3 separate regions of the Homo sapiens genome follow, and all the other regions are linked to region 1. Evidence: fine-mapped expression QTL. A gene starts in region 1. Each other region holds a variant in brackets. All regions are shown on one strand. Distances are between the middles of the regions.

The links. PIP is the estimated chance that this variant, and not a neighbour inherited with it, causes the effect. A credible set is the group of variants that fine-mapping cannot tell apart.
Region 2: its variant is the best candidate, but not a certain one, in a credible set for the expression of B3GALT1 in cerebellar hemisphere (GTEx, PIP 0.82).
Region 3: its variant is the best candidate, but not a certain one, in a credible set for the expression of B3GALT1 in tibial nerve (GTEx, PIP 0.55).

What each region holds. Positions count from the first base shown.
Region 1 is chr2:167,288,413-167,296,598 of GRCh38, forward strand. It overlaps B3GALT1 (beta-1,3-galactosyltransferase 1), which reads left to right and starts at 4,589. Exons shown (of 5, transcript NM_020981.4): 1 at 4,589-4,922. RefSeq lists enhancers at 3,855-4,468, 5,697-6,309 and a silencer at 4,704-4,753.
Region 2 is chr2:167,822,624-167,830,809 of GRCh38, forward strand. All of the region lies in intron 4 of B3GALT1 (beta-1,3-galactosyltransferase 1), which reads left to right. All of the region lies in intron 4 of B3GALT1-AS1 (B3GALT1 antisense RNA 1), which reads right to left. Among named protein-coding and RNA genes, the nearest start is that of B3GALT1-AS1, 110 kb to the right of the region's middle. The variant A/G (reference allele first, on the strand shown) is at 4,557.
Region 3 is chr2:167,799,755-167,807,940 of GRCh38, forward strand. All of the region lies in intron 3 of B3GALT1 (beta-1,3-galactosyltransferase 1), which reads left to right. Among named protein-coding and RNA genes, the nearest start is that of B3GALT1-AS1, 140 kb to the right of the region's middle. The variant G/A (reference allele first, on the strand shown) is at 3,857.

The DNA.
Region 1 (8,186 bases):
CTTCAGAACCTAGTATTGACTAATGAAGCCATAGAGAATGCTTTACAAATAACTTGAAAACTCTGCTCCTTTTCTCCTTCCTTACTCCTTCTTGCCTCTCACTTCTTCCTTACTCCCCCTTCCCCGACACACACACACACACACACACACACACACAAGCATATGCCTTCCTTCTACTTTTCCATGTCATGCTGCACCAATGTCATATGTAGCTGCTGTTAAGTAATCACAGCTTAAAGAAAAAAAAATTCATTATTAATAGACGTTGGATTTTCTTACTCAAGCAAATGACCAAATTTTAAATTATAAAAATTGAAAATGGAATCTAATGAGGTAAAGAGGTATCTTTTCCGCAATTTTGGTAATGACTTGATTTCTATAACATTATAAACAAACACTCAAATGAAGGATTGCATATCTTTAAACATGCTTTTGTTTTAAACATAACAGTAATAAAGACTGTCAATAATTTAAGACTTTATGAAACTATGTCAATTCAAGTTTTTTATACAGCCTTCTGCATAAATCATGACTCTACCTCCATTTTAAAATATTGAACGTAAAGAAACGTAACTCTTTTCTAATGTAAATATCCCACTTGAATTATCCTTTCCCCATTCTGCGTGGATCAAATGGTTGTCACCCTAATCGCCCTACCACAATTCTTTTTAAAGGAAACCAAAGATCTTCTCACCCATTCTCACCATCTCTTGTCAATACTTACAGTCAAGAGTTGATTTTCAGATCAAATTTCGCCCCCGCTCCAAAATAAACACTATCCTTACTTTTTCTTAATTATAAATGATCTTCTAGGCTTGTTGCCCTACTATACTCTTTCCTTCAAAATATTTTACATTATCTTAGTTTCAATGATTTCCTCTTTATTGATAACTCTCAAATCTCAGTAGCAAAGAGTATGTTGTGGTGGTAAGAGTACAGGGCTAGGAATTTGAACACTTGCCTGTTTGGAGTCCTGTTTCCTACAAAATTTTGATGAATGATTTTCTTCTTTTACTTATATTTGTGTGTGTGTGTGTGTGTGTGTGTGAGATGTGTGTGTACACACAGGTCCTGGTATAAAGAATATTTTTAAAAATGCTAGTTATGATTAACTTAGTAGAATCTAATCTATTCTGTTAGTTTTCATTCTTGTCTTCTCGTTTTGATTTTGCTTCAATCTTTCAATGCAAAGAAAACCTAATGTAGCAATCTTATAATATGAGCACAAATATTTATTTTATAGAAGTTTTATAGTTTTTAAATATGATAATTGAGGTGTTCTGTATTTGAAATTATCTAACAAGTTATATTATTTAGGGAAATAGGCTTTATTTCAGGTGTAATTTACATCCAATAATAAAACATAAAAGTCTGCCCTTCATTTAAATTAAGATGCCAACCATTAAACTTGCATATTTTAATAATATTGGAAGTGGCATAGTGAAGGAACTAAAGGAAAAACATTCTAAGCTGGGCAACATCAACAAATAAAGTGTAACTGATAGTCAATTTATCCTAAAATTGGTAAAGGAACTCTTTGAAACTTAATATGTTCATCTTTAGAAATAGATATTACATATCCATAATGAACAGTGCCATTGTAAGAATTAAACTAATTCACATTTGAGAGAGGGTAGTATTTATCATTAAATTCCAATTCTTCACCTTTTAAGAAGGGCTTTTCTGCAAGAGTCCATTGTGGCTTGTAGTTTCAATTATAAGTTAATCCTCATCTCTAAGAAAGGCAGCTATAGGTTTTATTTTGTTTTTAATCTCTACTTTACATATAAGGAATACTGGGAAAGTTTAAGTGACCGACCTATGATTACTCACCCAGACATAACCAGAGCTGGAACTAGACCAATTTCTCTCACTTCCTATTTAATTTTCTGCCTGCTAGATGTAACTTTTGTCATAATGGATCCCAATGAAGTATTCAGTTCCTATTCCTAATAAATATAGATTTTCCACATCAATTAATATGAAGTTATTTTACATACTTTCAGGATTAGGTCAATCATTATTGACCATTATTGCTGGTACTGACCAAGCCAATTTCTGTCACTATTAACAAGTGGAATGAATTCTCTCATTGCACAAGGAGAAAAACAGACATATCCGTAGGCCAAAAAAAGTTATTAAATTTTCTTATTAAACAGTCATATAATTAAGTAACACTGGACTTTCTGTCCAATATATCCCATGAAATTCATAATAATGCATGAAAACCTACTTAACATGCAATCTTTTCAGATACTTTAAAAATTTTGTCTTGGTTTTTCATCTTTACTGATTTTAAATATTTCATGGTTTTCACCATTAGTACGTTGTTAATTATGAAGTGTTTTTTCTCAGAGCTGCTTATACAGCATTAGTGATATGGTAGCAATAGTGATATGAGATATTAGTGTTATATCTGTATGCAGACTGTTGATTTTCTTTAGCTTTTTTGCTTCTGTAGGATAGTCATTTAATTGTCTTAATCTCTAAAAACACGGTACATAGGACCCATGTATTTTCAAGGATAACTGTTGCAAAATATTGAATAACATGGAAAGATGATATAAAATACTGGAAAATAGCATAATTGGCAGGGCATGGGAGAATGGTTAGAAAAATCATATTGATACTTGTGCAAGCACATTTCTGCAAGTTTCCACATAGCTTACAACATTCTAAAGTCAAAATTAGCTTTTAATGGAAAATCATTCAAAACTTACCTTTTATCAGGCATATTTCTAAACTGTCATTGCATTTTAATTTTGATTTTGAGATTTAAGTTTTAAGATTTCTACATTTTGCAAATATCAGCTCCTCCCCATGAATAAAATATATTTTTGAATAAATATATTTTTCTTTCTCTCCCAGATTTCAGCTTCACTCTTTTATTCCTTTATTATTCATTTTTCCCCTTTATTACCTCATATAGTCAATTAGGGTGCTGATTTTATGTCATTGCACAATAATAAAGAACTACATATACAATTTCTGAAAACAAAACAACAACAAAAACCCCTCTCTAGATTAAAAATCTAGTGTGGTGTGGTCCATATTCTCTGTTTTTAGCCTTTAAAAAAATGAACTTATCTATTAGCACAGCCAGTTCTTTTAAGAAGAGATCATCTGGCTCCCAAACTACATTGGTCAAATTACTGAAGGGGAGGAAGGCATAAGAGAATTGGAAAAAACAGTGATGATATGCACATAATTTCTATAGTACTAAAAGATGGCAATACACATCTATTTTGCAATCAAATTTTCCTCATAATGCTAATAAAATTTAGACAGGGTTTGTTTTGGTGATCACAGGATATATGGAGTTTTTAAAGAGTAAGGTAAGTGAAGAAAAGGGTGATTATTATTGCAAACAAAAAGGATCCCTTAAAAATACAATTAGCAAGAAGAGCTTCAGCATCATAGCTAAGACACATTGAATTCCAGCAATTTGTCAACTATGTAGCTGATATACACACTTGATTTTTGACCCTCACAACAACGTTGTGAGGTGGGTATGACTATTTATCAGAGGGTCACTTTGGGAAGGTCCCAAGCTTATTACAACCTTCATGTACAACTTTTTTTTTTTTTTTTACTAGAACATTGTAATATAAACTTATTGGTAGAACTCTGAGCCATTCAGACATATTTGTACTAAAGAAACTAAAAATGTTCCATAAGGGAAGATCATTACAATTTAGGGGAGAGTGGTGCAGAAAAACATTTTGTGGCTTTTGTTTTCTTTTTCTTTTATTGCTAAATAACATTACTTCGCTAGTGTTTGAGTCAAACACACATTAAAAAAAACTATTAGAACATTCAGACTTGATTATCCAAAGAAAAAGGAAAAAAAGGAAGCCAACCAATTAGGGTGGCTGCTTAAATTATCTTTCCCCATTCTCAAGGTTTTTTGTTTGTTTGTTTGTTGCGTTTGGGGTGGGGAGGTGAGGGGCGTTTATTTGGAGGGAAGACGGGGAAGGTCCACTCTGCCTACAACTCCGACATTTCTCCGTGTGCCTCTTTGCTAGCTGGGGACACTTCGTGGCTGATTACTATGAGGAGTGGTTCGAAGCCTAAGAAGTAGTACTCTTTTCAGCTGCCAAAGGGAGAAGGACGGGGGCGCTGTCTGGTGACTGTTCGCGTGATTCCTTCAAGGCGGCGACCACCTCCTGGGATTCGCTCTCCAGCCGCGCCGTTCGTACTCGGGTCCCGCGACCCCTCCCCGCTCCCCCCTCGCCCCAGCGATGCCAAGACGCTGAACCGCAGGGACGAGGCTCTGGGGACAAAGTCACCCCGCGGCGCCCTTTCCTGCCAAGCCGCGGGCTCCTGGCGGTCAGAAAGCGCCCCAGGCCCACCCCTGCGGGCCCGGCTTTCCCTCCTCACCTAAGGCTCCGGGGCCACGAGTCCCCCATCCTGCGCCCCTCCCGCGCCTCCCCCATCCCAAACCCCAGCAGCGTCGCTGCCTCTCCCGGAAACAAGCCCGCTGAGCAAAGGCGGAGGAAAACCTTGGGCCTTCCGCTCTGATTGGTCTCCCCCCGCCGAGCGGGGCGAGGCAGCGATTGGCTGCCGGGCGTTGTCAGTCGCCGAGGCCAGAGCCATCGCCGGGGAAGCGCAGCCGGGCTCGGGTGCTTCGGCTGCCGCCGCGGCTGCTCGGCTAGTGCAGCTGGGCGAGCTCGCGCGGGCGCCGCCGCCGCCTCTGCTGCTGCCCACCCCGCCGCGCCGCCGGCGCTGCCGGTCTTGCAGGCGGCCGCCGGGGAGGGGCGGCCGAGAGAGCGGAGCACGAGGAGGCGGGGGCGGCAGAGAAGTGATGCTGGCGCCGGGGATCGGGGCAGCGGCAGCGGAGCAGCAGCATCTTCGGGACCCTGGCTGCAGCGTCCCTGTGGCCCGCGCGCCAGCCCAGCGGCCGGAGACCACGCGCCCCGCGGGTAAGGTTCTGTCCGGCAGCGCCCGCGACGCCCCCGGGACGGCTGGCGTGGTCTTTGGGGGTTACGAGGCGCGTGGTGGCCGGGGCATCCCGACGAAGGTGTTGGGACCCGGACTGCGTGTCCCGACGCTGGGCTGTGCTACTGCCCGCGCCCGTGCGGCTCCAGCTGGTGCGTTCTCCCTTCCGCGCTCACAGACTTTGACAGCGCGGGGATGGCATTGTGTGAGTGTGGATGTGGATGCGTGTGTGCGCGCGCGCGGCTTGGGGCACTTTGCAGCGAGAACAGTGGGTCCCCTCTGCGTGGCCCGACGTCCTTCAAGGACCCAAGCTGGGCTGGAGTGAGTAGGATGCTGTTGGCTCGGCGGGAGGTAGAACGCACGGAGCGCACGGGAAAGTCCACCGTGGCTCGTAAAGAGCCGAGCAAATTGAACTTTATTGCGGTGATTAAAAGGAGCTGTGGACCTGGCGCGCCAGGGGAGAGGCGCGTTCCACGAGGCTCCCCAAAGTCCCACTTTGCCCCGGGGACTTCGGAGGGGAAGGGAAGAGAGGGAAAAGTAACTGTTGGTCCACATTGCTGAAGAAAAGGAGGAAAGAGAAGTTGGGGGTGGGGGTGGGGGTGGAGGTTACTCTTGGGGGAGTGGCGACTTTTAGGTGTCTGAAGCCCCGCGTGGGAGGCTTGCTACACTTTTCTGGAGCGCAGACTTGAGGATGGAGAGTCCCACTCTGAGGTACTGGTAGCGGCTCCTCCTGCCTGGTGGCGGCGTAGGGCGCAGCGGGACAGCTTGGTGGAGGCAGAGCGGGGCTCCGACGCCCGACGGCCCGGCGTCCAGGTGGGGCCACTGCCTCCCCAGGCCGCTTTGGCCCGCTGACCTCCCAGGTTGAGACCCGGCCTGGTGCGCCTCTGGCAGCTGCCAAATGCCTGGCGGCTCCGCTTTCCGACAAAGTTCAGGCCCGCTGGGGTCTGGTCCATCAGACCTAGGACACGTTAACCACGCAGAGTAACCAGGTTAGGGTACCCAGCTGCCTCCAGAGCGTTTTTGTTTCATATTAGATTATCTTATTTGATAAAGCTGTTGAGAGTTCCACCCGTGCTGCAAAGCCTTCCGCAGAAGGCGAATTCTTTGCGCTGCTGCAAATGGATGGTGCTACTGGGCCAGATCCGAATCTCCGTAGTTCAGTGCAGTGGGTTCTCCATCCCTGCTCAGGACGCACAAACTTACTCTTGGCGATTGTTTTCTATGTGGCTCCTTGTCTCCGTGGGAGTATCTGCTTAGGAAAGTTCTTGAAATACCTCAATACTAAGGAGCTCTCCCCACTGTCTCAGATGGGGCGAGGCTCCGGTACTTGACTGGCGTTGGGGTTGCAGCAGGGAATGGAGGTGGAACATCAGCTCCCTGCCTGCCAGCTTTGGTAAAACAAAAATTGGCTCAATACAGGGAGGCGGATCTTGAACTGGGGACAGCATTTTTCTTGTTATGTAGCTCCGTAATCTCTTTCACTAGAGGGATCTTTTGTCCCAAAACAAAACAAATCACAACACAACAAAAATACCCAAAACCAAACCGCAGAAACCACTTTGATTGGGCTCATTTCTGATTTGGTAAACCAGAGAAAATGAAAGTAAGGCACGTAATAGAAATGCTATAGAAAATCAGGAGGGAGCTGTCCAAATATGTCAGGCATTTTTCGATAGTTATTTTTCATTGTAAAGATTCTATTTTCTCCCAATTTAACAACTAAGTTATTTTAAAGCAGATGAATAACTTACGATAAACTAGTAGTGATGTTAGTTTTGGGTCCAAGGATGGTCTCATGGTTTTCATCACTTAATTGTTGTGCTGTAAATGGATTTTTTTATTATGATTTTAGTCACACATACTGCATTTGGACTAGTAAAAAATTGGTGCTAAGTATTTTCTTCTTAGCATTCATCATGTCTGGCTTAAAAGTGTGGTTTTCTGATATGATTAAAGAAAGTATATAGTTTGTGGTGGTTGTTCTATACAAAATTTACCTGCTTCCAGGTGATTAATATTGCAATATTTTAGTTATTGAAACCTTCAGGACTTTGTTAAGGTTACTAAAACAGGCTAAGCAGTTTATGTTAGTTTTGTGTTTCTTTTATGCAATACTATGTGCTGGTAAAACTTTTTGTTTTCCTCATAGGTTAATATGGGGGAAATAGGATTAAAGTGTGTTATACTTATTAATTAACAATTTTAAAATAAACTTCAATTAAAACTAAGCTATCAGTAACAGCCAGTACTAAAAATGGAACTTCTAAGGAAAATTTTAACGACTTGGCTAAGAAAGTGCTTTTTCACCTTGACATCAAGTAACATTTTATATATCCACTGCATTATGTATTGGAGTAAGCCACAAGTCTTAAAATGGAATTAAGAGCCTTTGTGCTCATTTTAAGGTTGTGTGTGTACGTGTGTGTGTGTGTGTGTGTGTGTGTGTGTGTGTATGGAACTTTTACTTGGAGGAAATCTTTTTTTAGATAATTTTAAAACGAGTAGGACAAATATAATCAAGTACAGAGAATTGTGTCAATGGTCATAAATATTAGGATAAGGCCATAGGAAATATGTTTAAGCATAAACAAATGATGCAGAGTTGGGGTTGGGGGTGGGCACAGGCTTTAGGGAGCTAATGGGTAGTGCCAGCCACTTAATTTATACAAGCAGTTCAAATTGTACCATTTCTGCGAATGTACTTAAGCTTTAACTTGTTTTGCTTCAGGGCAGCCCATGAGCTTAGACTGCCATATATTCTAGATGAATTTTAGTAATACAAGTAATGTCAACTTGTGAAGACCCTAGGCCACTAAATTCACTTCTTGACTTGTACAAAATTTTAATTTTAATACTCATCGGATAACTTTTCTAAGAAGATCACATCAATATGAATAGCAATGCTAATAGATACAATTATTTTATGAAATAAAACTTATTTAATTTGTCAGATAGTCACGATTAGTGTTTGTACGTGAATAGGTAAGAAAGTGAGGTTTATAGCGATTTGTTTTAATTAATAGTGAAATCATTCTTTTTCTAAAACTAACAATGTTAGGGGAATTAAAAACTTCAACTGGTTAGTAAATCAGAAGTTCATTCTCATTTTTTCTTTGTCTCTTTCAGTCTGTCTCTTTCTTTCGCTCTCTCTCACCACACAAAAACACATGCATACTAGAAAGGTTCTCAGAAGGAATTTCGCCATGCTGCATTTGAAACAAATTGACTAATCTATTCTGAATGATGAA
Region 2 (8,186 bases), 530 kb after region 1:
ATTTCTTTTCGCCTTCTTACTCCCACCTGGCTTCAGACCTCCTCTCTCTTGGCACTGGTTTTCATCTCAGTTATGCCTGTTGCCATCTCTTCCTATCAAGGACTTGCTTATTCTTCAAGCCCCACTCAAAATTCACTCCTCCACATGCCTTTTCAGATGTCCACAGTGAAAATTAAGCTCCTTCTTCCCTTACCCGAGGGCACTTTTTACTAATCTTACAGCATCTCTCTGCATTGTACTATGAGGACAAGGGTGGGACAGAGAATGCTGATGATTCAATCAGATGTGTTTTCTCTTTTTTCTTCCTGGACATATAGATAGACCGCATTTCCTAGCCTTCCTTAGAGTTGGGCATGGCCACATAATAAATTTCTAGCAATGCAAAATGAGTAGAAGTGACATGCTTCATTTGGAAGCCAGGGTTTTGAGGAAGGAGGTATGCCTCCTCTATGCTTTTTGCCTTGCTGCCATCAGTAAAGGAGCTCTGAGACCCCCCCAGGTGGGGGCCCCATGGGGTGAAGAAAGCCTGGGTTCCCAAATCACCAGGTGAAAAGCTTTCTGGCCAAGCAGCAACGCTAGGTTGTTACACAAGAAATAACCACCTATTGTGTTAAGGCTTAGAAATTTAGGGCTTATTTGTTACAGCTGCTGGTGTGGACCTAACAGAGAGTATGCATCTTTCTAAGTGTGTGCTTGAGTGTGTGTGCTTTTAGAAGCCCCAAAAGGACTGGAACTAAAAAAAAAATCATTCTTAACTGTGTGTAAAATTAAACTGAGTTGGTGCCTCATTTGGAAATGGAGCAGATGGTCATTAAAATGAAAAGTGGAGGCTACTCTAAAGCATCTCCAATATTAGGAATGCCATTTTCTCATTTGCAAGCAGCTGTCTAGAATTTTGTAAACAATCTCATAGGTGACTAATTTGGTATAGCGAACAAAAGGAATACCCAGTTTTCATGTTAAAATATGCCCTGGTTCATTTCTCATTTGAATATTCATTATTTCATTCAACAAGTACATATGGAACACATTCTACATGCCAGGCAGTCCTCTAACAGTGCTGATCCATGAACAGTGGCCCCAGCTCATTCCAAGTACACAGGCCAGTGGGGGAACCAAATATCCACTAAACTCATCACACTGCTGAATATGCTGTCAGCATATCACCCAGGTTCTCTGGTTCCTCTCTTGGAAAATAAGAATGATAATACTGGCTATTTCTCTAATTTTAAATTAGATAATATTTAGATATAACAATTATAAAATATTTAGCAGTGTGCTTGACACTTGAACTTGGCAAGCACGTGATAATTCTTAGCTATTATTATTTGCTTTGATTTAGAGAAATACTATGAGATTGTGTAATAAAGGAATCTGACTAGGCTGAGGAAGGGGTGTGTGGAACACAACAGTTTCCTCTGGAAATGACTCCTGATATGATAGCTGAGAAGTTGGGAAGAATATTCCAAATTCTTAAAACTAGAGTAAAAACAGTATATTCAAAGAACCCATGATGGGGACTTCATTTTCAGGAATTAAAAGAAAAAGCTAGTTTAGCTGGAGTCTAGAAAGCAAGGGGAAAACTGCAGCAGGATAAGACCATGTAGAGCCTTGGGAACCAATCATGGTATGATTTCCAACACATAATGGCACAGAATGATAGGATCAGACTTAGTTTTTAGAAAGATCACTATAGCTGGAGTGTAAAGAAAGAAATTTAGAGGACAGACTGAGAATAGGCAGCTACTTGCAACTTGCAACTTGCAAAGTTAATATAGGAGTCAAGATAAGAGATACCCATAGCTTGAGTGGTGGTAGTGGAGCTTGAGAGAAGTAGAGATATAAGAGAAATTTCTGAAGTGACATTGGCAGGATGTGGTGATGGATTAGGTACAGAGTTAAGAGGTGAAACCGGGACTTGACTCCCAGTCTTGCTCTCGGTCCTCTCTACCACTCCACCCTCCAGGGCTCATGGCTTGATCCTCTCCAGCCTCAACCTGGCCAGGTTTCCCCTCAAGCCTCCAGAGCCTAAGGAAGAGGAGTTGACAGGAAGGACAGGGACCAGTGTCATTTGGTCCCTGATCTCTCTTGGGACAGGTCCCCAAGCAGCTGAGCCAGAGCTGTTAGGAATGGCTCCAGGTCTTTCCGATACAGAGAGGTACATTTCACAGAAGTGGGGAACCATGAAAGAAGATCAGGGTTGCAGGATCATGAATTTACCTTTGCATATGTTGCATTCAGATGCCCTTCAGATATCCAAGTACACAATTAGATGTGTGGGTCTGGAGATCCATAGAGAGAGATCTCTGAGCTAGAATATAAACTTAAGAGTTATTCACATGCAGATGGCAACTGAGGTCATGGGCAGAAAAAAAAATTGCATAGAAAACAAGCAAAACTGCCTGTAATCCCAGCACTTTGGAAGGCCGAGGTGGGCAGATCACCAGGTCAGGAGATCGAGACCATCCTGGCTAACACGATGAAACCCCGTCTCTATTAAAAATACAAAAAATTAGCTGGGTGTGGTGGCGGGCACCTGTAGTCCAGCTGCTCAGGAGGCTGAGGCAGGAGAATGGCGTGAACCCGGGAGGCGAAGCTTGCAGTGAGCCGAGATCGCGCCACTGTACTCTAGCCTGGGCGACAGAGCAAGACTCCGTCTCAAAAAAAAAAAAAAAACAGAAAAAAGAAAACAAGCAAAACTTAGAGTGAGAAGAAAAGAAGGCCTAGGACCTTGGCTTGAGGAACTTGTTAGCAAAGGAGACAATGTTAGTCAGGGCTCTCCAGAGAGAAAGAACCAATAAGATATATGCAGGGGTGTGTGTGTGTGTGTGTGCGTGCACGTGTGTGTGTGTGTTATATATAAATTATATATATATATAAATTATATATACATATATAAAAAGGCCACCAATAGAAGACAATTCTCTTACTAATTCCACGTTGTCAGACTCAGAGTACACCATAAATAATTTTTCCCCTTAGAGCACCTTTTTCATTTTCACTTCTGAGATAGGGATCGATCCCTTTTCTCTGACCCACCCAGGGCAGTTGTTCAGAAAGCACACCACTCTTGACTCCAGCTCCTGTAGAAATGAGAGACACTGTGATTGTGCATCTGCCCCTCTGACTTTGTCTCGGGCTTGGGCAGGGAGTCTGTGCCACAGCCCTTGGCTCCACTCTTCTATCTCTGTTGCCTTGCATAGGTGTTTAACAACTTATCCAGCTTGTAATTCAATATCCACTGTGAGGTTGCCAGGTGGTTTTATTTTTCCTTTTAAATTAAATACTGATAAAGATCTTAGACCATGACAAATTCAGAGCAAATGTTACAAATGTTTTCCCTCTGATTCCTTCTCTTTCAGTCCAATAAGCTAAGGCCTTAATTTCAGCATCATTTCTTTTTATTCAGAGTAGAGATTGGTGCCATACAATTTCCCTCAAATGGGCTTTCCTTGACATTCTTCAGCTGAGAAGAGTAGCAGACCCTCACCTCTGCATTTGGTTTCTACATCTTGCCTACATTTCCTAAAGTGATGTGGGGTGAGCCTAGGTCACACGGCAGGGAATGGGTCAGGTCACTTGACTCCCGGTCTTGCGCTCAGTCCTCTCTACCACTCCACCCTCCAGGGCTCATGGCTTGATCCTCTCCAGCCTCAACCTGGCCAGGTTTCCCCTCAAGCCTCCAGAGCCTAAGGAAGAGGAGTTGACAGGAAGGACAGGGACCAGTGTCATTTGGTCCCTGATCTCTCTTGGGACAGCTCCCCAAGCAACTGAACCAGAGCTGAGGAAGAGGAGGCAACAGGAGATGGTGGGCTAGACTCAATTCCCTGCACATTAGCATAGCAGCCTGGTGCTCCCTATGCCCCTGAGGAGGTCTCTGAGGCTTAAACCCTTGAAGAAACTCAAGAACTGATTAGAAGACACCCTGTCAGGAATGGGGTGAGTGTAAGGGATCAGGTGATGACCAGTATTGAATAAGGCTCAAAGAAGGAATGAAAGTCAAAGATGGGGTGAGAGTCAGGGATGTTTATGGCACATATGAATCAGCCCACTGTATCCACAGGTTCCACATCTGAGGCCTCAACCAACCGTGGATTGAAAATGTTTGTAAAAGAGAAACAATAAAACATAACAACACAACAATAAAAGATAATATAAGTAAAAAATACAGCATAACAACTATTTACATAACATTTACATTGTATTAGGTATTATAACTAATCTAGAGATGATTTAAAGCACACAGGAGAATGCATGTAGGTTATATGCAAATCCTGCACCATGTTATATAAGGAACTTAAGCATTTGCTGATTTTGTATGGTGGAATCTTGGAATCAATCCCCATCAGATACTAAGGATGACAGTATTGGTAAATAAATCACGTATTTTTCCACTGTACTCTACCAAATGTCCTCGACACCAGAACAATCATGCTTCCTGTTCAGAGGCAGAACTCCAGGCTCCAAGAACACCAGTGGGACAGAATGTACAAAGGTCAAGACTCAGACACCAGCACAAATGGCACATATTCTCTGTGCCAGATGCCTCACAAGCT[A/G]TTTCATCTACTGCCCAAAACAGCCCTTCAAGTCAGTGCTTTAAGATTCACCTGCCAGTTAAAGAAACAAGGCTCCAAAGGTTGGGGTACAAAGAACAAGACAGGTGCCAGTCACGGTAAGCAGGGTACAAGGTGGTCTATTTAGTCACAAAGAACAAAACAAAATGCAGTTGGCTCAACTCCTAAAGGCTGAGCACACGGTCAGTTGGAAATATGACGAGATCCTTGCCACTGTGTTACTGCCCTTGGGCCCCCTAAATTCTCCCTAACTAGGGAACTGCATTGGTCTAGACTGGCACCTAGGTGAGACTGAATGGGCAACATGAAGCCAAGCAGCTCTCGCTATGGGCAGTAGTGAGCTAAGGAGCAGGGAGTCAGGCCTGTTTTCTGCAAATAGCGCCCACCCCACCCCTTCCCTCTCTGGCAGTCCCTGCTCAGTGCGTGGCTGCTGCTCAGAGTGCACTTTCTGATGGCGTGTTTGCATATGGCCTCGGATGCTCTATATCCAAAGTCCTTCGCAAGCTGTGCTTCAGCCACTGAGCAAACTGGAATGGAAACCAGAGCATTACACAATTCCTGGGTTTACAGACTTTGAAAGGCACCAAGAGTGGTTTGTTGGGGTTGAGATTGGCCACATCCCAGTGTGCTTTTCTGGGACTTTGTAACAGTTATTTCTGAGAGGGTTTCACTGAGCCCTAGAGAGACTGCTAGAAGGTCAACACAGAGGGCTCTCGAAGCACAGCAGAGACAGGCAACAAACCCGTCACAACCACAGCATTCAGCCCCCTCCCCTGCCCTCTTAGGGTAGGTTGCTCTAAGCTCTCTAAGAACACACAGAATTAAGTAAGGGTTTATTTCCCAGTTGCCTCAACAAATATTTATTCAGCTGTGTATAAGACCTCATGTTTCTCACCAGACTGTGATGCTGTGTAATGTACCTTTGATTCCCTGGCACCTATTCCTGGGCCTAAAAGAAGTGGATGCTCTACAGTTGTTAGTCAAATGAATTAGCATACACCATCTAGTCCTAGAATTTGGAAAACGCCCTATAATGTGAAACAGTCAACAAATCCCCTGTCACCAATTGAGTCTACCTGCCGTCCCATAAATGACTTCTCACATCTTTCCTAATAGCACAAAATTGCTCTCAAGCTCGAGTGAAATAAGTCTAACCTGTGATGAACTGCCGAATGAATTAATAAACACCACTTCATGGAAAGTGTTCTGTGGGAATGTGACATGGTCAGAAATATGATTGGCAGAGGTCATAGAGTGGATGGGAACCTACCAGTGTGTGGTTTCTGATATTTTTTCCTGCATAAGAGATGAGTTTCTCATGGCTCCTATATTCCCAACAGGCACGTTTAAAACATGTCCCCTTCTTTGTCTCTCAGGAAAGCAAATCAATCAGTAGGCAAATGCATAAAATTGATATCTTCACAAGGACAAACCTGAATGTGCTCTCTTTTTAAAAATCACAATCCTAATAATGGACAGCCTTTACTGAGTGCTTACTCTATGCTAAGCACTGTGCCATGAGCTTTGCATATATGATCCCATTTGAGCTAGAAACAACCAACCCTGTGTGGTTTGTTCTGTAGGATCTTCATTTTGCAGATTAGGAAACGGGCCTATAGAGGTTGCAGAACATTTCCAGGAGTAATATGTGTGTGGGACTGAAATGCAGGTCTTGACATTAACACTGTCCTGTCTCTAAAATTATCATACTCAAATTTCAGTACTTGGTGACTGTCATCATAAGTTGTCATGCTGTCCCTCACAACTGACTGCCACAATCTGTGTACTATAACAGAGAGAAACGTTTACCAAAAGTACGGTCTGGCTTTTATCAAAACTAACTTTTTGCTTCATGGTTTGAACCAAATTGTCCAATACTGATTTGAGTTACTCGGGTCTTAAAAAGCAATACGTTAATAACTGTCTCTTACTGATTGTCTATAATGTCCTACTCACTATATCAGACATTTTTCAAAAATTATTTCTAATAAAAATAGATATCTAGGCCAGGTGCGGTGGCTCACGCCTGTAATCCCAGCACTTTGGGAGGCCGAGGTAGGTGGATCATGAGGTCAGGAGTTCGAGACCAGCCTGGCCAACATAGTGAAACCCCATCTCTACTAAAAATACAAAAAATTAGCTGGGCCTGGTGGCGGGTGCCTGTAATCCCAGCTACTCAGAAGGCTGAGGCAGGAGAATCACTTGAATCTGGGAGGCGGAGGTTACAGGGAGCCAAGATCACGCCATTGCACTCCAGCCCGGGTGACAGTGCAAGACTCCATCTCAAGGAAAAAAAAAAAGAAAAGAAGAAGAAAGAAAAAAAAATAGATATCTAAAGTATGATAAATAAAGTTGGAGCAGGACAGAAAGGGGAGCCAAGTCTTCCCCCACTTATGAGTTTCATTTTTCAGGCTCCAGAGGCCTTTCATGTCTCTTTTTCCCACTCTTGAAAAGTCTCAGTTGATGCCTTTCCTTCTCTCCTCCTTTGTTGATATCCTTCTCCACTGGCATCATCTCTACCCCTCCCCTTGGCTAAGATGTGAGCTGTGACTTCCTGCTGGGCAGGATGAGATGATCTGGGAGAATAGTCCTCTGAGATGCGCGGAGAATGGGGTGGGAAGTTATGTGAGAAAGAGAAGCCATAGCAGGGCGAGTGCTCCAAGGAGGGGTGCAAAGCCCATGTAGGTAAATGAAATGGAGTGGTGGTCCTTCTGAGGAGAAAATGGAAAGGCCAGGAGAAGGGGCTGACTACAAGTAACCACAGTCTTTTGGGAGGAGAGGAAAAGGCAAAAGAAATGTCTAGAAAGCACGGATGTTCTTTATGAACAACCACACAGGAAGATTAAAAGCAGTGTTTTCCTCACCAAGCATTGACATTTGTGTGGAAGTCCTGTTGACCACTGCATCATTTCTCTCTGTCGTTCTCGCCAATGCCCACCAGAGTCTGGAAGTCACGCCCAGAGAAATGTCTTCAAGGACTGAGCAGAAGTGAATTCTCTGCAGCCCTCAACACTTGAGCAGCTTCCTGAATGACAAACCTCACTAAGGCCGGGTCTTTTTCACAGACCTGGGAGCAGGGGTCAGTAGCGGGCAGGCTGTGCGGCAAACATACCATTGTCATTTGGATGAGGAAAGACATTAAGCGGGAACAGGGCAGGGTAGGGATTCGTTCATACTTAAAAAAAAAAAAAAAGTTTGGTTAGACAATCAAGGAGACGTGCAAATGTTCCCCAGCCTTCAGTGAAATGCTTTCAGGCTTTCACGTGAAAAGTTTGTACATTAATTTACTTCAAACTTGTCCACAATTGTGAACTGTCAATATCAATATGGGCCCATGTGCTGCCTATTTGAAGATGATGCTACCATTGTTGATTATCCTGGATGTGTATGAATTTAGTTGAAAAGACTGCTGCATGCTCAGCTGTTTCCTCTGTTGCACAAAAAACTGATTTCAAACTGTAGCCGTTTGAAAATATATACCACCAAAAAGTTTGATGTAAAAATAAGCAAGTGCTTCCTTAACCCGTGTTTTCACAAATAGCTGATTCAATCACTTTGATTTTAAATTAGCAAGTCAACAAGTCAGTTTCATTAAAAATACATGCACAGTCT
Region 3 (8,186 bases), 510 kb after region 1:
TATTTCTTCTGTTCCTGTCAAGCTGTGAAGAGGTTGTAATCTCATTAAGAAATGAGGGGCAAGTTTAAAGCAAATGTTAAAGGGCAACCTAATTACTTTGTGAAATGTGAAATGTGTTCAAGACCCACAGACAAAGGTTCTTAGTTTTAACAAAATTTCTGTCTGACTTCAATAAAAGTTCTATTAATGCAATGTGTATGTATACACTTATGTATACACTTATGTATACACATAGTTTCTCTTCGCTAGAACGTATGCTTCACCAGAGCAAGGATTTTTATCTGTTTTGTACACTAACTTATTCCAAGTGCCTAAAATAGGACCTGACATGAATCTATTCTCAGTAGACATTTGTTGAATGAATATAAAAAGTTCATGCTGGGTGAAAGATAGAATTTCACTATTAGCTCTAATGCAGTCCAATTAAACTTTTCCCATCATTTTATTTCGTGGACATAAAATCATTGGGACAGGAAGCCCCAGAGGAGAAACATGGAACATACAAGTAGCTCCCAGAATAGCCAGTGCTCAGCATCCTTGTATGATGCCTCCAAAAATTTGGAACCCCAAGATTATTTATCCCCACAATCAAATAATCTCTGGAACACTTTCTTACCATTAAGTAAAATGTTTAGGGAGGAAAAACTCCCACCTGAACTACCCTCCCCACACCCATTATCATTCTACCCTGTTCACAACCTTCCCCTGAAACTTTCTTCCCAACAGAGCAAAATCAAATAAAGCATAAAGATATACAAATACAATTAAGTTCCAACCTAAAAGAAAGTACTTAGTACACTAAAAGTACTATCTGCCTAGTAGTATCTGCATCTCAGCTTCCCTACCTGACCACAGATCCTTGAGACTTTGAAATGATTCCTCACTATTGGACAGCCTTTGGAAACTTGGCCTCACACCATTTAAACTCATCTTTTCAGTTTCACAAAAGAGAGGTTTCCACTGAGGAACCAAAAAAAGTCTGTTGATCCTTGTCTCTGTCAGTGACTCGGGATGGGCACTTGTTGTCTGAATAAGACCAGTTCTTGGTGAGTCCTTAGAGACCATAAAGAGCGTAGATGGACAGCTTTCACGTCTTCGCCTAGAAGTCCCAAGCTCATTTAGCTTTGACAGGCAGAGTCTAGAGAAAGCATTTGTAGAAAGGAGACAGTGTCTAAACACCCATGTTTGGAAACCATACATGAGAAATGATTTCAAAAGAGCCACTCAGTGAATATATCCATTGAGGGTTGTTTCTATTTGACAGAAATTCATCAGGGTGAAAGGTGAAGGGGCCAATCAGACATGTAAATAATGAGTAAATGCATTATTTAGTACTTGACAAAACAGGCTCTTGGCTAGAATGCATAGTTATAGACATAGTCTTGAATACAATACTGCAAACATCCGGGCCTGAGGCCCTGAATATAGATCCTTCAGAGCAATAGTGAAAACAAAACCAGTTGATGTGTATTTGTCGTCTATCAAAGAACCCATCCCTGGAAAATTCACCCCATTTTGTTTGTATTCTCTCTGAATGAATAAGAGAAATCATTGTAGACATAGGAGATGGAAGAAAAAAAATGTGAATCTTCATTTTAAATAATTCATTTCCTCCAGACCATACTTTAAATTTAAAGATCTAGCTTAAACATAAAATGAGAAACTTGAGTCTTATATTTGTGATGTTTTCATTCACTTCACGTCAAAGACCGGTCTCATTCAACTGGCTTTATTTTCACTATTGCCCTGAAGGACCTATATTGTCAAAGCCCCAGGCCCTGATGTTTGCACTACAGTATTCAAGACTGTACTATGACTATGCAATCTAGGTAAGAGTGTGTTTTGTCAAGTAGCAAATAATGCATTATTAAAATCTGACTGGATTCCTCGGAAAAAAATAATAGTGCATTTGCTTTCCATTAAATTTTCTGAAGGACATAAATGTTTTTATCTGCTATGATGAGTTACCTGAATGTCATGCCATAATACAACATGACAACACTTAACCTGGAGTAATTCAGCATGACAACATTTGTGGGGAAAGAATTTCAAGTATTTTAGATTGATTTACCATATTAGCAAGTGTTGCATGGAATTTGCTACAGCCTCTCAAGTTTAAAGGCATTAAATGTCACATGATTTCGGTGCATCCCTAACACCAAATACCAGCTCTCATAGAGTTACACTGAGGAGAAGCCACCATGGATCAGCCAACTACAATCTCCTGGTGTCTGACAGACTGGGATTTTATACAAGCTTTGTGGGGTATCCCTTCACATGTTTGGAGGCAGGAGGCAAGAATCATTCTTTCTCTCTGCACACATAGGCAGCTGTGCCACAGGGCACAGTTGGGTGGGAATATACTGTAGACCTGTAGCCACACTACAAGTGATATTGAGATGACAACTTGTACTGCAGTCCTCCCTGTGAGCTCAGACAGACTTCATTGTGAAGTGTCCAGCACACGGACTTAGCATGTGGTGAACATGATTGTCAATTTGGGGGGCAGCCTCTGAAGTTACAAGGAATGAAAACATTCTCAGCATCTGAACTTAAGCCTTGTGGAAGAAAACAGACTGAGAGAGGGGCCCTGGAGCCAGCACCTCACTGGCCCCCAAATAGGCTATTGATCTCATTTTGTGTGGTTGTTTTTTATCATTTTTTAAATTATAAAGTAATATTTGAATGCATGATTGTTGTAAACACCTCAAACAATACAGAGGTCTAGAGAATGAAAAGAAATCCCTGTGCACCACCAGCTCCTCGCACAATTTCACTTTTATCCCCAGAGTTAATACCTATTGTTTTGCAAATGTTTTACTTTGGGGCTAAGCCTACACATTTCATCTTAATATAACCAAATGGCTTAATGATTCTTATAATGGAACTCATTCGTAATTGAAAATCCTATTATATCTATTATATCTCCATCGTATTACATGTCCCTATTAAGCCCTTGTTACAATTATTTTATTAGTAACTCTTGAAATACATTACCCCAGGTTAGAGCAACGCATGTAATCCAAGAAGGACAGCTCTTTCTTAATGTTTAAAATGTTCTGATTGCCCATAGAGAGTTGCTATGTTTTTTTAATCGGTGGATTGAAAAATAGCAATAACAAAAATGTACAATGAAGTTGACAACACTTTTAAATAAATTAGTATTTTTTTATCACAAAGGTATATATTCACATTGGAAAAAATAATAGTACCTACACATGTGTTATTTAGGCTGCAAAAAATGATTGATGTGCAGATGGATTGTGAGGTAACTTGAGGAAATTAATTAATTCATCACTGCTGACAATGTTCATTTGACCCTAACAAACACACACACACACACACACACACACACACACACACACACCCCTTGGTTGGGCTGGGGAATGGTTTCAGAATACAGAAACTTTCCATCAAACAGGAAAGTCTACTTAGAGCCAATCCTTAAAAAAATTGTGGTGAAGCAACAGTGCACTAAACAAGATGGCTAAATGGGTCATCATTTAATTTTTAGATACTTATGCATTTTGAAGAACAAATAGACTTCCTATTCCAAAATAGCTCAATTATGTTTTGATTGCAACATCAGATTTTCCAAGGATCTTGGATCTCAAATACTGTAATCATTTATACATAAATTGATCATTACTTTACAAAAATAAAAACTTGCTGTGGCAGTGGTATAGTGTGGGCATATGTGGAGTTTTCTGTCGTCCCTGAGATTTCACAATAGGCGTAGCTCTATTGTTTTTGGAAAACATGTTGTTGGATTCTGGATGATTTAAGGCATCTGCAGTCTTCCAGGTAAGGAAGAGGAGAAATATGCTGGTGCTGTGACTCTGCAGAGCCGCATCAA[G/A]ACAGGGTCTTGTATGTAGCAGCTCACCCATCCCTTTGACCTTTAGCAGATGGTTTTCCTGTGCGTACTTGGCATCACTGGCTTCCTGAGCAAAAGCCTCATAAATGAAAGAACATTCAGTCCATTTATCCAAAACTCTCCTAAGGAATACTTTTTTTTATATAAAGTACACTCTTACTGACCCATTCACACTCTCGTTCTGTCACACACAGCACAATCCTATTGAGTAGTGAGCAGTTCTAGGGTAGGCATTTAGCCCCATGAAAGAGTTGTATTTTACGTTAATGGAGGCATATTTCACAGGTCCTTTTGTATTTATGACGACTTTTTTCCAGGGGAATATGTATTGCACGAAGTATACACATATTTGCCCTGATTTATGACTCTTCTCAAAATGTCTTTTGAGATGGAGTCTCACTCTGCTGCCCAGGCTGGAGTACAGAGGCGTGATCTCGGCACACTGCAACCTCCCGGGTTCAAGACATTCTCCTGCCTCAGACTCCCAAGTAGCTGGGATTACAGGTGGGCACCACCACGTCCAGCTGATTTTTGTATTTTTAGTAGAGACGAGATTTCACCACGTTGCCCAGGCTGGTCTCAAACTCCTGACTTCAAGTGATCTGCGAGCCTCGGCCGCCCAAAGTGCTGGGATTACAGGCATGAGCCACCATGCCCAGCCTCAAAATTTCTTTTTTGTTTTGTTTTGTTTTTTTCTTTTTTTTTTTAATTATTATACTTTAAGTTTTAGGGTACATGTGCACAATGTGCAGGTTAGTTACATATGTATACATGTGCCATGTTGGTGTGCTGCACCCATCAACTCGTCTTTTAACATTAGGTATATCTCCTAATGCTATCCCTCCCCCTTCTGCCCACCCCAAAACAGGCCCCAGTGTGTGATGTTCCCCTTCCTGTGTCCATGTGTTCTCATTGTTCAATTCCCACCTATGAGTGAGAACATGCGGTGTTTGGTTTTTTGTCCTTGAGATAGTTTGCTGAGAATGATGGTTTCCAGCTTCATCCATGTCCCTACAAAGGACATGAACTCATCATTTTTATGGCTGCATACTATTCCATGGTGTATATGTGCCACATTTTCTTAATCCAGTCTATCATTGTTGGACATTTGGCTTGGTTCCAAGTCTTTGCTATTGTGAATAGTGCCGCAATAAACATATGTGTGCATGTGTCTTTATAGCAGCATGATTTATAATCCTTTGGGTATATACCCAGTAATGGGATTGCTGGGTCAAACGGTATTTCTAGTTCAAGATCCCTGAGGAATCGCCACACTGACTTCCACAATGGTTGAACTAGTTTACAGTCCCACCAACAGTGTAAAAGTGTTCCTATTTCTGCACATCCTCTCCAGCACCTGTTGTTTCCTGACTTTTTAATGATCACCATTCTAACTGGTGTGAGATGGTATCTCACTGTGGTTTTGATTTGCATTTCTCTGATGGCCAGTGATGATGAGCATTTTTTCATGTGTCTTTTGGCTGCATAAATGTCTTCTTGTGAGAAGTGTCTGTTCATATCCTTTGCCCACTTTTTGATGGGGCTGTTTGTTTTTTCCTTGTAGATTTGTTTGAGTTCATTGTAGATTCTGGATATTAGCCCTTTGTCAGATGAGTAGATTGCAAAAATTTTCTCCCATTCTGTAGGTTGCCTGTTCACTCTGATGGTAGTTTCTTTTGCTGTGCAGAAGCTCTTTAGTTTAATTAGATCCCATTTGTCAATTTTGGCTTTTGTTGCCATTGCTTTTGGTGTTTTAGACATGAAGTCCTTGCCCCTGCCTATGTCCTGAATGGTATTGCCTATGTTTTCTTGTAGGGTTTTTATGGTTTTAGGTCTAACATTTAAGTCTTTAATCCATCTTGAATTGATTTTTGTATAAGGTGTAAGGAAGAGATCCAGTTTCAGCTTTCTACATATGGCTAGCCAGTTTTCCCAGCACCATTTATTAAATAGGGAATCCTTTCCCCATTTCTCATTTTTGTCAGGTTTGTCAAAGATCAGATGGTTGTAGATACGTGGCATTATTTCTGAGGGCTCTGTTCTGTTCCTTTGATCTATATCTCTGTTTTGGTACCAGTACCATGCTGTTTTGATTACTGTAGCCTTGTAATATAGTTTGAAGTCAGGTAGTGTGATGCCTCCAGCTTTGTTCTTTTGGCTTAGGATTCACTTGGCAATGCAGGCTCTTTTTTGGTTCCCTATGAACTTTAAAGTAGTTTCTTCCAATTGTGTGAAGAAAGTCATTGGTAGCTTGATAGGGATGGCATTGAATCTATAAATTACCTTGGGCAGTATGGCCATTTTCACGATATTGATTCTTCCTACCCATGAGCATGGAATGTTCTTCCATTTGTTTGTATCCTCTTTTATTTCCTCGAGCAGTGGTTTGTAGTTCTCCTTGAAGAGGTCCTTCACATCCCTTGTAAGTTGGATTCCTAGGTATTTTATTCTCTTTGAAGCAATTGTGAATGAAAGTTCACTCATTATTTGGCTCTCTGTTTGTCTGTTATTGGTGTATAAGACTGCTTGTGATTTTTGTACATTGATTTTGTATCCTGAGACTTTGCTGAAGTTGCCCATCAGCTTAAGGAGATTTTGGGCTGAGATGATGGGGTTTTCTAGACATACAATCATGTCATCTGCAAACAGGGACAATTTGACTTCCTCTTTTCCTAATTGAATACCCTTTATTTCCTTCTCCTGTCTGATTGCCCTGACCAGAACTTCCAACACTATGTTGAATAGGAGTGGTGAGAGAGGGCATCCCTGCCTTGTGCCAGTTTTCAAAGGGAATGCTTCCAGTTTTTGCCCATTCAGTATGATATTGGTCATAGATAGCTCTTATTATTTTGAGATGCGTCCCATCAATACCTAACTTATTGAGAGTTTTTAGCATGAAGGGCTGTTGAATTTTGTCAAAGGCCTTTTCTGCATCTATTGAGATAATTGTAGTTTTTGTCGTTGGTTCTGTTTATATGCTGGATTACGTTTATTGATTTGCATATGTTGAACCAGCCTTGCATCCCAGGGATGAAACCCACTTGATCATGGTGGATAAGCTTTTTGATGTGCTGCTGGATTTGGTTGCCAGTATTTTATTGAGGATTTTTGCATCGATGTACATCAGGGATATTGGTCTAAAATTCTCTTTTTTTGTTGTGTCTCTGCCAGGCTTTGGTATCAGGATGATGCTGGCGTCATAAAATGAGTTAAGGAGGATTCCCTCTTTTTCTATTGATTAGAATAGTTTCAGAAGGAATGGTACCAGCTCCTCCTTGTACCTCTGGTAGAATTCGGCTGTGAATCAGTCTGGTCCTGGACTTTTTTTGGTTAGTAAGCTATTAATTGTTGCCTCAATTCAGATCCTGTTATTGGTCTATTCAGAGATTCAACTTCTTCCTGGTTTAGTCTTGGGAGGGTGTATGTGTCGAGGAACTTATCCATTTCTTCTAGATTTTCTAGTTTATTTGCGTAGAGGTGTTTATAGTATTCTCTGATGGTAGTTTGTATTTCTGTGGGATCAGTGGTGATATCCCCTTTATCATTTTTTATTGCATCTATTTGATTCTTCTCTCTTTTCTTCTTAATTAGTCTTGCTAACGGTCTATCAATTTTGTTGATCTTTTCAAAAAACCAGCTCCTGGATTCATCGAATTTTTGAAGGGTTTTTTGTGTCTCTATTTCCTTCAGTTCTGCTCTGATCTTAGTTATTTCTTGCCTTCTGCTAGCTTTTAAATGTGTTTGCTCTTGCTTCTCTAGTTCTTTTAGTTGTGATGTTAGGGTGTCAATTTTAGGTCTTTCCTGCTTTCTCTTGTGGGCATTTAGTGCTATAAATTTCCCTCTACACACTGCTTTGAATGTGTCCCAGAGATTCTGGTATGTTGTGTCTTTGTTCTCGTTGGTTTCAAAGAACATCTTTATTTCTGCCTTCATTTCGTTATGTACCCAGTAGTCATTCTGGAGCAGGTTGTTCAGTTTCCATGTAGTTGAGCGGTTTTGAGTGAGTTTCTTAATCCTGAGTTCTAGTTTGATTGCACTGTGGTCTGAAACACAGTTTGTTATAATTTCTGTTCTTTTACATTTGCTGAGGAGTGCTTTACTTCCAACTAAGTGGTCAATTTTGGAATAAGTGCAATGTGGTGCTGAGAAGAATGTATATTCTGTTGATTTGGGGTAGAGAGTTCTGTAGATATCTATTAGGTCTGCTTGGTGCAGAGCTGAGTTCAATTCCTGGATATCCTTGTTAACTTTCTGTCTAATGTTGACAGTGGGGTGTTAAAGTCTCCCATTATTATTGTGTGGGAGTCTAAGT